Linked DNA regions of Homo sapiens: regions 2 and 3 are each reported to be linked to region 1. The links are microRNA targets in miRTarBase. Many come from high-throughput screens and were not tested one by one. Region 1 holds a microRNA gene; each other region holds the end of a gene's coding sequence.

Region 1 (3,253 bases):
AAGGGAAGTGATTTGCCCAAAGCCACACAACTAAATGGAGGCAGAATTGGAGGTAGAAGCCAGCTCATCTCTGCGTGGCGTTGGAGCATAACACACTCTTTGAAGGGGCAGTTTTCTCTTCTCCTTGCCTTTATTTGGCTGAGGTTAAAAGGAATTGTGCATTCAGAGTCCACAGGTACACACGACAGGGCAGTTTAAAACTAACTAGCAGACAGACTCTCTGGTGGAAGTAGCTCTCGACGGTGTGTTGGACACAGTCACCTAAATTAAAAATAAGGGCAAGGACTGGCTGGGTGCTGCAAGCCCAGGAGCAGGAGGTTGCTGGGGGGTACAGATCAAGAGCAGGCTCCGTTTCCCTTAATTTAGTGTCTTGGGTCAAGGGCCAAGGATAGTCTGAAGTAGCAGCAAACGTGAATACTAGACTGTGGTTAGAGAAATAGACTTTTAGAATGCTCAAGTACCCTCGGTTTACAGCAAGATGTTCAGAGGTCCTGCTTTAATGAGGAGATGATCATGCAAATGGGAGCTACTAAGGCGCATGGAACAGATTGCTGTTTGGGAAATTACACTTGCCCCCCACTATCTTGTTTTCTGTCATTTATTTGCCTAACAATCTTGACAGAGATGCAGGGCAGATGTTACTCCCAGCGCCCAGTTGGTAGTGCAGATTCCGGATGTAGCAGGACCTCTGTCCCCATTTCTCTGAACTGCTTCTCTGTCTGTATCTAGTAGATTAGTTCCTTCTGAGGAACAATGTTTTTCCACCAACAAAGCGCCTGCTTTGAACCATACTTGAAAAGAAACTTTCAAAGGCGGCACCAGCCTCCCTGAACACCTTTTCCAAAGTGCTTTCCAAAGGGAGCCATCTTCCCACCTCCCACCACCTCTCAGATTCGCTTCTGAAGACCTGGCTCAAAAGCAGTGGCTTTGTGGGACCGAGATGGAGGGAAGGATGGAGGTCGGCCTCTGGAAACTACAGCCGCCTTATCGATAACGGATTGCGCCAAGTTGCCAAAAGGAGTTTTCCAACATACGATCGAGTTCCAGTTTGTGATTTGTGACCTGTCCCAATTGTTGAAGTCACACTTGATTTTTTTTTTTTTTTTTCCTTTTTTGGAACTGATGTTTAGAGCTTGTTTGAGTTGGATCCAATGCTGTTTTAACAGCTGTTCTAATCAGAAGTGCTGTCAATTATTAACCTTAATGGTGGTTTTTCTTTCAAAAATATTTCTCTAAGCTCTCTTGAAATGTCAAAATTTGGCTTCTTGGTAGGAAGTCATTTAGTGAAATCACTTAATGGCTGGGCATCAGTTTCCCCATCTGAAAAGTGGAGATGTTGACAAGCGCCTTCTCCGCGGGGTTATTGTGGATGCACACATGGCGAGTTGGGTGGGTGATATCAGCGGTCATTACTGTTGTTAGGAGGGCTTCTGTTAAGCCAGCTTTCCATTTCCAGGAACTTCCCCTCCCCCAAGCGCCACCCTCCAAAAAATAAACATTTCTTTAAAATGTTGAGCGAACAGCTTTCCTGTTCATGCTTTGACTCTGCAGAGTGCACGCAGCCCATTCTCAGGGTTGGGCAGCCTTTGTAGAGATGGGGGAGGCCCAATCCCTGCTTCCACTTTGTGGGGAGACCCCAAGAGGGTACTAGCAGATGATGGCACAGTGACAGCTGGGAGGGATGGGATGTGCTTGCTTCATGTCCCTTTCCCAGGGGAGGGGCTGGGTTTACGTTGGGAGAACTTTTACGGTGAACCAGGAGGTTCTCCCAACGTAAGCCCAGCCCCTCCCCTCTGCCTGCCTCAACCCTACACAGTCCTGTCTGGTGACGTGCCAAAGTCCTTCCTGCCTTGCAGAGAGGCCTCTCTTCGTCGAACATGGGCCTCAGGAAAGACAGCCTGAATGCCACTACCCCAGGCTTGTGGAAGGTTCTGCATCTGTGTGGCATTGTTGCGATAGCCCTCAGTTGATGCTTGTTTGTGGTGTTGGGAGGCAGGAACTACTTTAGGAGGGTGGAGGGGTGAGAATGAGAGAGGACTTGCCCTGAGCCACCCAGCTGTGGTCACCTGATGGCCCGGATGGCTACATAAATCCTGGGAGATCCGTTGTCCTCATAACCAGAGTGAGCTGGGCTCCAGACCAGCCCTATGGGAAGATCCTGTCTGTGGGAAGCCTTTGGCCACGTGTTTGCTGAAGGGTGTGGGGAAGGGCAAGGTCAGCTACGTTTCTTTTTTGTCAACTCCCGAGACCCTGACCCTTGGCCTGTTTACCAGTGGAAGGAGGCCATAGCCAGAACCCTTTTATAATCACCCTGCCTCCCTGCTCTCCCAGAGACTGTGAGAGTTAATAGTTGCTGAGGAGGCCAGAATGACTGGGGATGTTCTGACCTTGCCCCTGCCTTCCTGGCTGTGGGGAGGAGTAGTGGCCAGGGACCCATCTAGGTGGCTTGCGATTGGCCTGGCTTGGAGGTGCCACCCCACCCCGTTGGTGAAGGGCTTGGGCCACTGGCCACCAAGTGTATGTCAACACTCCATCCACCACGGCCCCTCCCACAGATGCTGCCCATGCTGGGGCAGGCCCAGATCCACAGCAAGGGGTCACTGCAATATGAAGTCTCAATAAATGCAGAGATGCCAGTGATACTATTCTTTGGGCCAAACATTTACGGAGCAGCTACTGTGTGCCAGACACTGCTCTATTGTTGTTTAAGATAACAGGCCTTGGACCTGTGAGCTTCCTAAACAGTAAGGTTGGTTTTTTTTGTTTATTTTTGTTTGCTTTTTGTTTTTTACATATCTTTCTATTCTTATTTGGTGCATGAACTCAAAGGTGAGAGAACTTGTTACTCTGCCGGTTTGGAGTGAGCTGCAGCCTATGCTTGTTTCTAGAACTCCTGCCCTATCCAACCCGGACTTTTTTGCTTCATTCCCCATTCCTACTATCAGTTGATTTAGGCGAGGAAAAAATAAGCAGAGTGAGGAAGGACCCTGTTTGGGAGAGCTCTTCCCACTTAACTAGATTAACAATTTATATAATGATTATTTAGTAATCCTCCTGGGTTCCTTAGAGTATGAATGACGGGTGTCTAGTGGGTGGAGAGGCCAGGGATGCTTTTAAAAGCCCTGCAGTGCACAGAACGGGCTCCACACAGCAGTGAATTATCTGACCTCAGATGTCAATAGCATGGTGTTTGAGAAACCCTGATGTATGGTGTCCTGGCTAGAGTGCCCCACACATGTGTCAATGTGGAGTC
Region 2 (3,253 bases), not on the chromosome of region 1:
TCAGCCTCCCAAAGCACCGGGATTACAGGCATAGGTCACTGCGCCTAGCCTTACCAGCCCTTTAGTAATAAGCACTTTTCAGAGAATTGAAGCTGTTCAGCCTGGAGATGAGGCGCAATATCACCCTGGACACTGGAAGTCTGGTTGGATGCTGGGGTCAGCTAAAAACAAAACAACACTGGAGAGCAGAGGCTGTGGCTTGGCTGCCTTGACCCTGCAGGAGGAGCTTGGACTGGCCCCAGGTGATGCTGCCTTTGCTGTCCTAGGAGAGGCCTGGCAGGGTCCTTTCCATCCCAGAAATGCTGTGATCAGAGCCAATAAGCACCCACTGGAAGCTTCATCTGCCCAAAGGAGTCTGCCTTCATCAGCATAATTCATTGCGCGCCAGCTTCACTCAGTGACTGTTTTGGAAGGTGAAGGGCTATCAGAAACAATTTTAAGTCCCTGCTTTCAGGAAGTCAAGCATAACAAATAATATGCACCCATGAGAACTCTCCATGAGGGGCTGAGGTCTCTGGGGCTCTCGTGAGCTGTCCACCCAGACTGTGTGATAGAACCCAGAGGAGGAGAGAACCCGGGACTGGGAGGGTCAAGAATGAATCCGGAGCTGGGCGCGGTGACTCATGCCTGTAATCCCAGCACTTTGGGAGGCCGAGACAGGTGGATCACGAGGTCAGGAGATGGAGACCATCCTGGCTAACACGGTGAAACCCCGTCTCTACTAAAAATACAAAAAATTAGCCAGCCTGGTGGCAGGGCTGCCTGTAGTCCCAGCTACTCAGAAGGCCGAGGCAGGAGAATGATGGGAACCCGGGAGGCGGAGCTTGCAGTGAGCCGAGATCGCGCCACTGCACTCCAGCCTGGGCGACAGAGCGAGACTCCATCTCAAAAAAAAAAAAAAAAGAAAAAGAAAAAAAAGAATATCCGGGCCCAGCTGGCACGCTGTGCAGCAGCAGTGAAGCCTGAAGCACGGACGCGTCTAGTGGGTGAGGCTGAACACCAAGAGCCTTGGATTCTGCGGCTGAGGCTTGGGGCCTTTTCCTAGCGGCCCTGGAGGGCTGCTAGGTGGTTCTGAGCAGCAGATGAAGCTGGGATTCGGGGCCCCAGAGTCCTGGAAGTGCACTGTGCAGAATCTCCTCAGAGGGTGCTGGCTTGACCATTACCATTTCATTGACCATTGTACTACTGTTTACTACCATACTACCACCAAATTTTACCATTGACATTTATACTATTATTCACTTAAAGAAAATGATTAAAATAAATGTGCAGTTTGAAAGGCAAACTGCGGCCGGGCACGGTGGCTCAGGCCTGTAATCCTAACACTTTGGGAGGCCAAGGCGGGCGGATCACAAGGTCAGGAGTTTGAGACCAGCCTAGCCAACATGCTGAAACTCCATCTCTACTAAAAATACAAAAATTAGCCAGGTGTGATGGCGGCGCACACGTGTAATCCCAGCTACTCAGGAGGCTGAGGCAGAAGAATCACTTGAACCCAGGAGGCGGAGGTTGCAGTGAGCTGAGTTTGCATCACTGCACTCCAGCCTGGGCAACAGAGCAAGACTCGGTCTCATTAAAAAAAGAAGAAAAAAAAAAAAAAAAGAAAAGGCAAACTGCATTACTATGGTCCACAGAAAACCAGTCACATGAGCCACCAACAGAAGAGAACACAAACTAAGACCAAGGGAAGCCATGTTCCTAGCACCGTGCCATCCCTGCTCCCAGCTGAGGCTTGGAGGAGGCCTACCCTGCTGATCACACGGAGAAGAGCCAGGACTCCGAGGTCACCCGCACACAGCGGGATGGCATCTCCGACACTCCCGTGGGGAAGCAGCGTCACTGTGCCCTGAAGACTCATGTTTGAGATAGGCAGGCAGCGCTGCTCCATCAGCCGGCTGGACAGTTTTACATCTCAGGGAAGGGCACTGTGTCATGGATGTAAATGGCATGGCACAGCAATATCTGTGGTGTCTAGTGGTGATGAAGTCCAGGTGCTGTTAGTGGAGGAAATGCTAAATTGCAGTTAGACATTAATGAAAATAGAGATGCAATGCTTTTTCATTGTGATGCATGGGACCCCAAATTCTCCCTAGACCTCTGGACCCAGCATAAGGCTCCTGTGCCTGCTGGCCAGGCTAGGGTGTGGGGACCTTACCACGGCACGTTTCCTTGGTGAGGCCATGTCAACATTCCTCGTTTCTCACACTTAGGACCCCTCCCACGAGTGGGGGGTATGCAGCCCTCCAAGGAGCCAGTGGTCTCAGACCTGCCACCCCACAGCCAGAGGTTTCTGGCCCCAGGCCACTGGTGTTTTCCCTGCCAGTGCAGGTGAATTCTGGAAGGAGGGTGCCTGGGAGGTGGGTGTGGGGGTGGTGGGTGACTTCAAGCCTCCAAAGACCAGAGGGAAGGGTCTGCCTCATGGAGCTCCGTGAGCAAAGGCCAGGAGGCACCCAGGACCCCGAGTCCGTGCCAGCTGGCATCGGGGGGACTTGGAGATCAGCCTCCCCGGGGCCGCCACCTCCAGGGCCCTGCAGAGAACAGGGCTATCCTGAGCATGCCAGGGTCCTGGGAATGTCCCCCCACCCCTGTCACATCCCAGTCACCTGGCTGGCCGAGGGCCACCAGAGAGGAAATAGTTTGAAAAACCAAAGTCCTTTCTGCCCCAAAATATTTTTTATTCTTGCATTACATTTGTGTTTCCAATTGTGAATAAAAAATGCTTAGAAAGTGGTTACAAAACAGCGTGAACTGGACAGGAGGAGCAGCTGGCCCTGAGGGTCCGTCACTTCTCCACTTAGACGGCGTGAAGTGGGCCTGGCGTCTAGGCGGGGTCAGTCAGGCTTCTCACTCTCAGGATCTGGAAAACAAAACCGCGCAGCTGACTGTGGGCCCACCGCAGTGCTGGCCACTCGCCAAGGGCCAGGCCCTGACACCCTCCCAGGAGCTGCCGACGGGAAGGCTGCGCCAGCTCTGCCATGACCCACGCCCTGTGTAGATGGTCTTGTCCTCAGCACAGCCCTGGCGGCCTCTGTCACCTGGACCACCCTTCTTTGTGTGACCAGTCAGCACACTGAACGGCTGCCAGAAACCCAAACAGACGCTCTGCTCCTGTACCGTCTGGAGCATCTGGGGAGTGAGCTGCCCTCCAACACCCAAAACAGGAGGCTCTGGGATGAGTGTTCCTCCTCCCTCCATGCAGAAGCTCGAAGGCTGGCACTGCAGCTCTCTGAGGAGGTGGCCCCACAGCCAAGGC
Region 3 (3,253 bases), not on the chromosome of region 1:
GATGTCATTTGCCAGAGCATCTCAAGTGCCTATTACAGTGATGGACATGTAGTAGGGACTGTAAAGTTGAATAAATGAAAGCAAAGTTACCAAGTAAATGTAATCTCAAGAAATGCCAATTTTACCTTTTAAAAATACTGAATAGCATTTATTATAAAATCACAACCTGCATAAACAGGGTATCACATTAATTTATTAATTATTTATTGGGTAAACACTAAGAGCTAGGTAATACTCTGGACAACTGGGCTGGGGCTATCAGTGAACAAGAGACAAATCACTACCCTTTTGGAGCTTTCATTTTATTCAGTAGTCAGGGAATACAAAATACGTAAGTAAACTGTGTCAGAAAAGAATAAATGCCATTGTAGAAGGAAAAATATAGAGGAGGAAAGAAGAGCCAGGCGTATCTGTATTTTTTAATAGGGTAGCCAGGACAGTTCCTTTTGAGCTAGGCTGTAACTGAACAAACACCTGAAGGCATTAGCTATGAGATACTGGGAAAGGAAAGGGGCAAAAAGGGACTGATAGCGCAAGGGCCTAAGAGACACAAACCCAAGACTCCAGGTACCACCGGAGGCTAACATGGCTGGAGTAGAGAGAGGGGTAGCAGTAAGGGAAGTCATGGCAGGAGGTGATGGGAGAGTACTACAGGAATTTGTAGGTTTTTATAGAGATTAAATGTCACTTTACCAGACTGTTTTTAAGAATTTAAAAGCCTGAGAGGAAAAAAAATTCTCATAGCTATGGAAACCATCAAAGACCACTGAATACATTCAAGCAAGTTTCAAATATTTTATTTTCTTATTCATACAGTATGAAGTTTTCTAAAGATCCCACAACATGACGTATCATGCAGAAGAAAAACTAAACATTCAACATAAACCATCCCCTCCCTTACCCACCCCCACACACAAACTAAAAAAAAAAAAAAAAAAAAAGAAAAAGAAAAAACCCTCATTCCCCGGTAAGGAAATAATGTTTACACTATTTTTCTGTAACGCCAGCCAAGATATGCACAAGCAAGAGAAATAGAAAGCATTTGCTAAAATATTTGTAACAAATACTTATGTACAAAAAATTCACAAAAGGCTAGTTCCCCCTTGAAGCAGAGCACATGGCAGTTGACACTGGAACAGTTCAAACCACTGGCTGGGATTATAAGCCATGCCACTGATCCAGAGGAAGAAAGTTACATGTAGTGGAGATTTTCAGTCTGAACATTAACATTTCCAAAGTTTGGCAACATTATCTTTTAAAATTATGCAAATTATGTAAACAAGAGGTACATTTTAAATTGATCTACATGCAAAACTCCATGTCATGCAAGGACACCAAGCACCGGGATTTTTCTCTCACAGACAGAGCCCATGATGTGCAGCACTCAGTTGAAGGAACAGCGATGGCAGGCAGGTGTGCTCAATTTCAGATTGATTCACCTTGATTCAACCTGCCCTTTTCCACTGATTTTAAAACCAGTTTTTATAGAGAAACTATAAAGGGAAAGACTACTGTCATACAAAGCTAACCAAAATGTTTTTCTTCCAGCTAACAGTACCTTTGCAGAAATGGGAAGGGATAAGATCAAACAGTAGAACATGATACACTACTTTTATATCACACAAATTTATTAAGTTATCCATTACCAATTATATGGGCAAATCAAGAAAAAAAAACCAGTATGCATGCTCTATCCCTCGTGGTAAAGAAATTTAAGTGGCATAAATTTGGATACAATTTTGCTCTTCTGTGGCATATAGATTAGCAAGATTTCTCACACTTAAACCACAAATATATGTGGGTGTTTAGATACATACATGCATATTAAATATCACCAGTTTTTTAGATTAGCTGCAAGTCTTTTGAAACAAGGGAATTCATGATTCAAACACAAGTTTAATGACAAATTATTTACCCATGTAATCAAACAAATGGATATCCCTTATAAGTAGTTACATGATCACTTCAGGTATTCTTCAGTAAGTGATACATACAATCAATCATGATTGCCTCAGACAGCTTCTGGCCTTTATGTATAAAATCACAACTAGCACTTAACGTTACTGAGGGACATTTAATAAATGCAATGGCTCCTAGTTACAAAGTAGCAGAATGAAGCAGCTATAAGCCCTGTGCAGTTACTATATGAACACAAGAACTAGCTCTTGGCAGTAGCAATGAACTAGACTTTCTCCTCAAGCAGAGGTGTATTAAAAGCTGCTCAGCAATGAGAAGTAGTCCCTGGATATATTCATAAGTATAAATAAAGTTACAGACTCCTTTGTTACAAAAATGTAATTAAGGTAAATAATAGGACGTTAACAAATGCTTTGTCAATCTCTCAAAGGAGAAAGCACAGGAAAAGGAAAATAGCTGGCCTAACACCCGGCTCAAATTGTACAGTCTTCTATCTATATATAAAACTGTGTGAAATAAAAGTAAGGATGTTTTATGTTCTGCTTGGCACTTTTGTACTCTATTGTTTTGTTTCTGAATCAAGTATATTAAATTAAAGCCAACCTACTACATATATAGAAAGCTACATATATCTATATATAAATATTTACATATGTATATATAGATACTTTCTTGTTATAAAAGATGAAGAAAAATAAATTAAAAAGCCAACCCCTTCCCTTTCTCCACCACATTGATATGCTCTTTTCATGTTGCTGTCCTTCAGACTTTAAAGTGCTACACTGAGTTATTGAGAGAATTACAGTTCAATAACACTTAGTTGGCTTCATGAGGCTCATGTTGGAAAATGTGGCTTCACAGAGAAAAATACTTCCATTTAAATACACAGAGAGCATTGCTGGACGTCTTGAGCAGATCTTCAGAGATGGAGAAGAAAGCAAAAGTGTTGGGTGGTACTCTCTGATAAGAGTCACACATCTACCACCATCTTTTTGTGGATATCTAGGCCACCTACAACCTGCAACAGACAGGAACAAATCAAGCTTCACAGTGTCTGAGAAACTCCTCATTCGTGGTCTAACTACTTCATCAAATTTTAAAAAATATTACTAGGGGGCTGGGCGTGGTGGCTCACACCTGTAATCCCAGCACTTTGGAAGGCCAAGGCAGGTGGATCACAAGGTCAGGAGATCGAGACCATCCTGGCTAACACACGGTGAAACCTTGTCTCTACTAAAAAAATACAAAAACTTAGCCGGGTGTGGTGGCGTGTGCCTCTAGTCCCAGCTACTGGGCAGGCTGATGCAGGAGAATCGCTTGAACCCGGGAGTTGGAG

Evidence for each region. Region 1 holds the annotated microRNA hsa-miR-629-3p (GUUCUCCCAACGUAAGCCCAGC, at 1,763-1,784, shown strand). A microRNA usually pairs through its seed, bases 2 to 8, with sites in the 3' UTR of a target mRNA and lowers its output. Matches are read on the target gene's strand: a 7mer-m8 pairs with bases 2 to 8, a 7mer-A1 pairs with bases 2 to 7 and ends in A, and an 8mer does both.
Region 2: miRTarBase lists WNK2 as a target of hsa-miR-629-3p. The part of its 3' UTR that is shown has no 7-base or 8-base seed match.
Region 3: miRTarBase lists PPP3R1 as a target of hsa-miR-629-3p. Seed matches in the 3' UTR shown: 7mer-A1 at 2,638-2,644 and 7mer-A1 at 2,189-2,195.

The regions. Positions count from the first base shown.
Region 1 is chr15:70,077,918-70,081,170 of GRCh38, reverse strand. MIR629 (microRNA 629) reads left to right here and starts at 1,703; the gene lies at 1,703-1,799. All of the region lies in intron 4 of TLE3 (TLE family member 3, transcriptional corepressor), which reads left to right. RefSeq lists enhancers at 1,639-2,245, 2,246-2,852.
Region 2 is chr9:93,319,971-93,323,223 of GRCh38, reverse strand. It overlaps WNK2 (WNK lysine deficient protein kinase 2), which reads right to left. Exons shown (of 30, transcript NM_006648.4): 30 at 2,655-2,857. The coding sequence ends at 2,832. Among named protein-coding and RNA genes, the nearest start is that of FAM120A, 130 kb to the left of the region's middle.
Region 3 is chr2:68,178,076-68,181,328 of GRCh38, forward strand. It overlaps PPP3R1 (protein phosphatase 3 regulatory subunit B, alpha), which reads right to left. Exons shown (of 6, transcript NM_000945.4): 6 at 782-2,935. The coding sequence ends at 2,888. Among named protein-coding and RNA genes, the nearest start is that of PNO1, 22 kb to the left of the region's middle.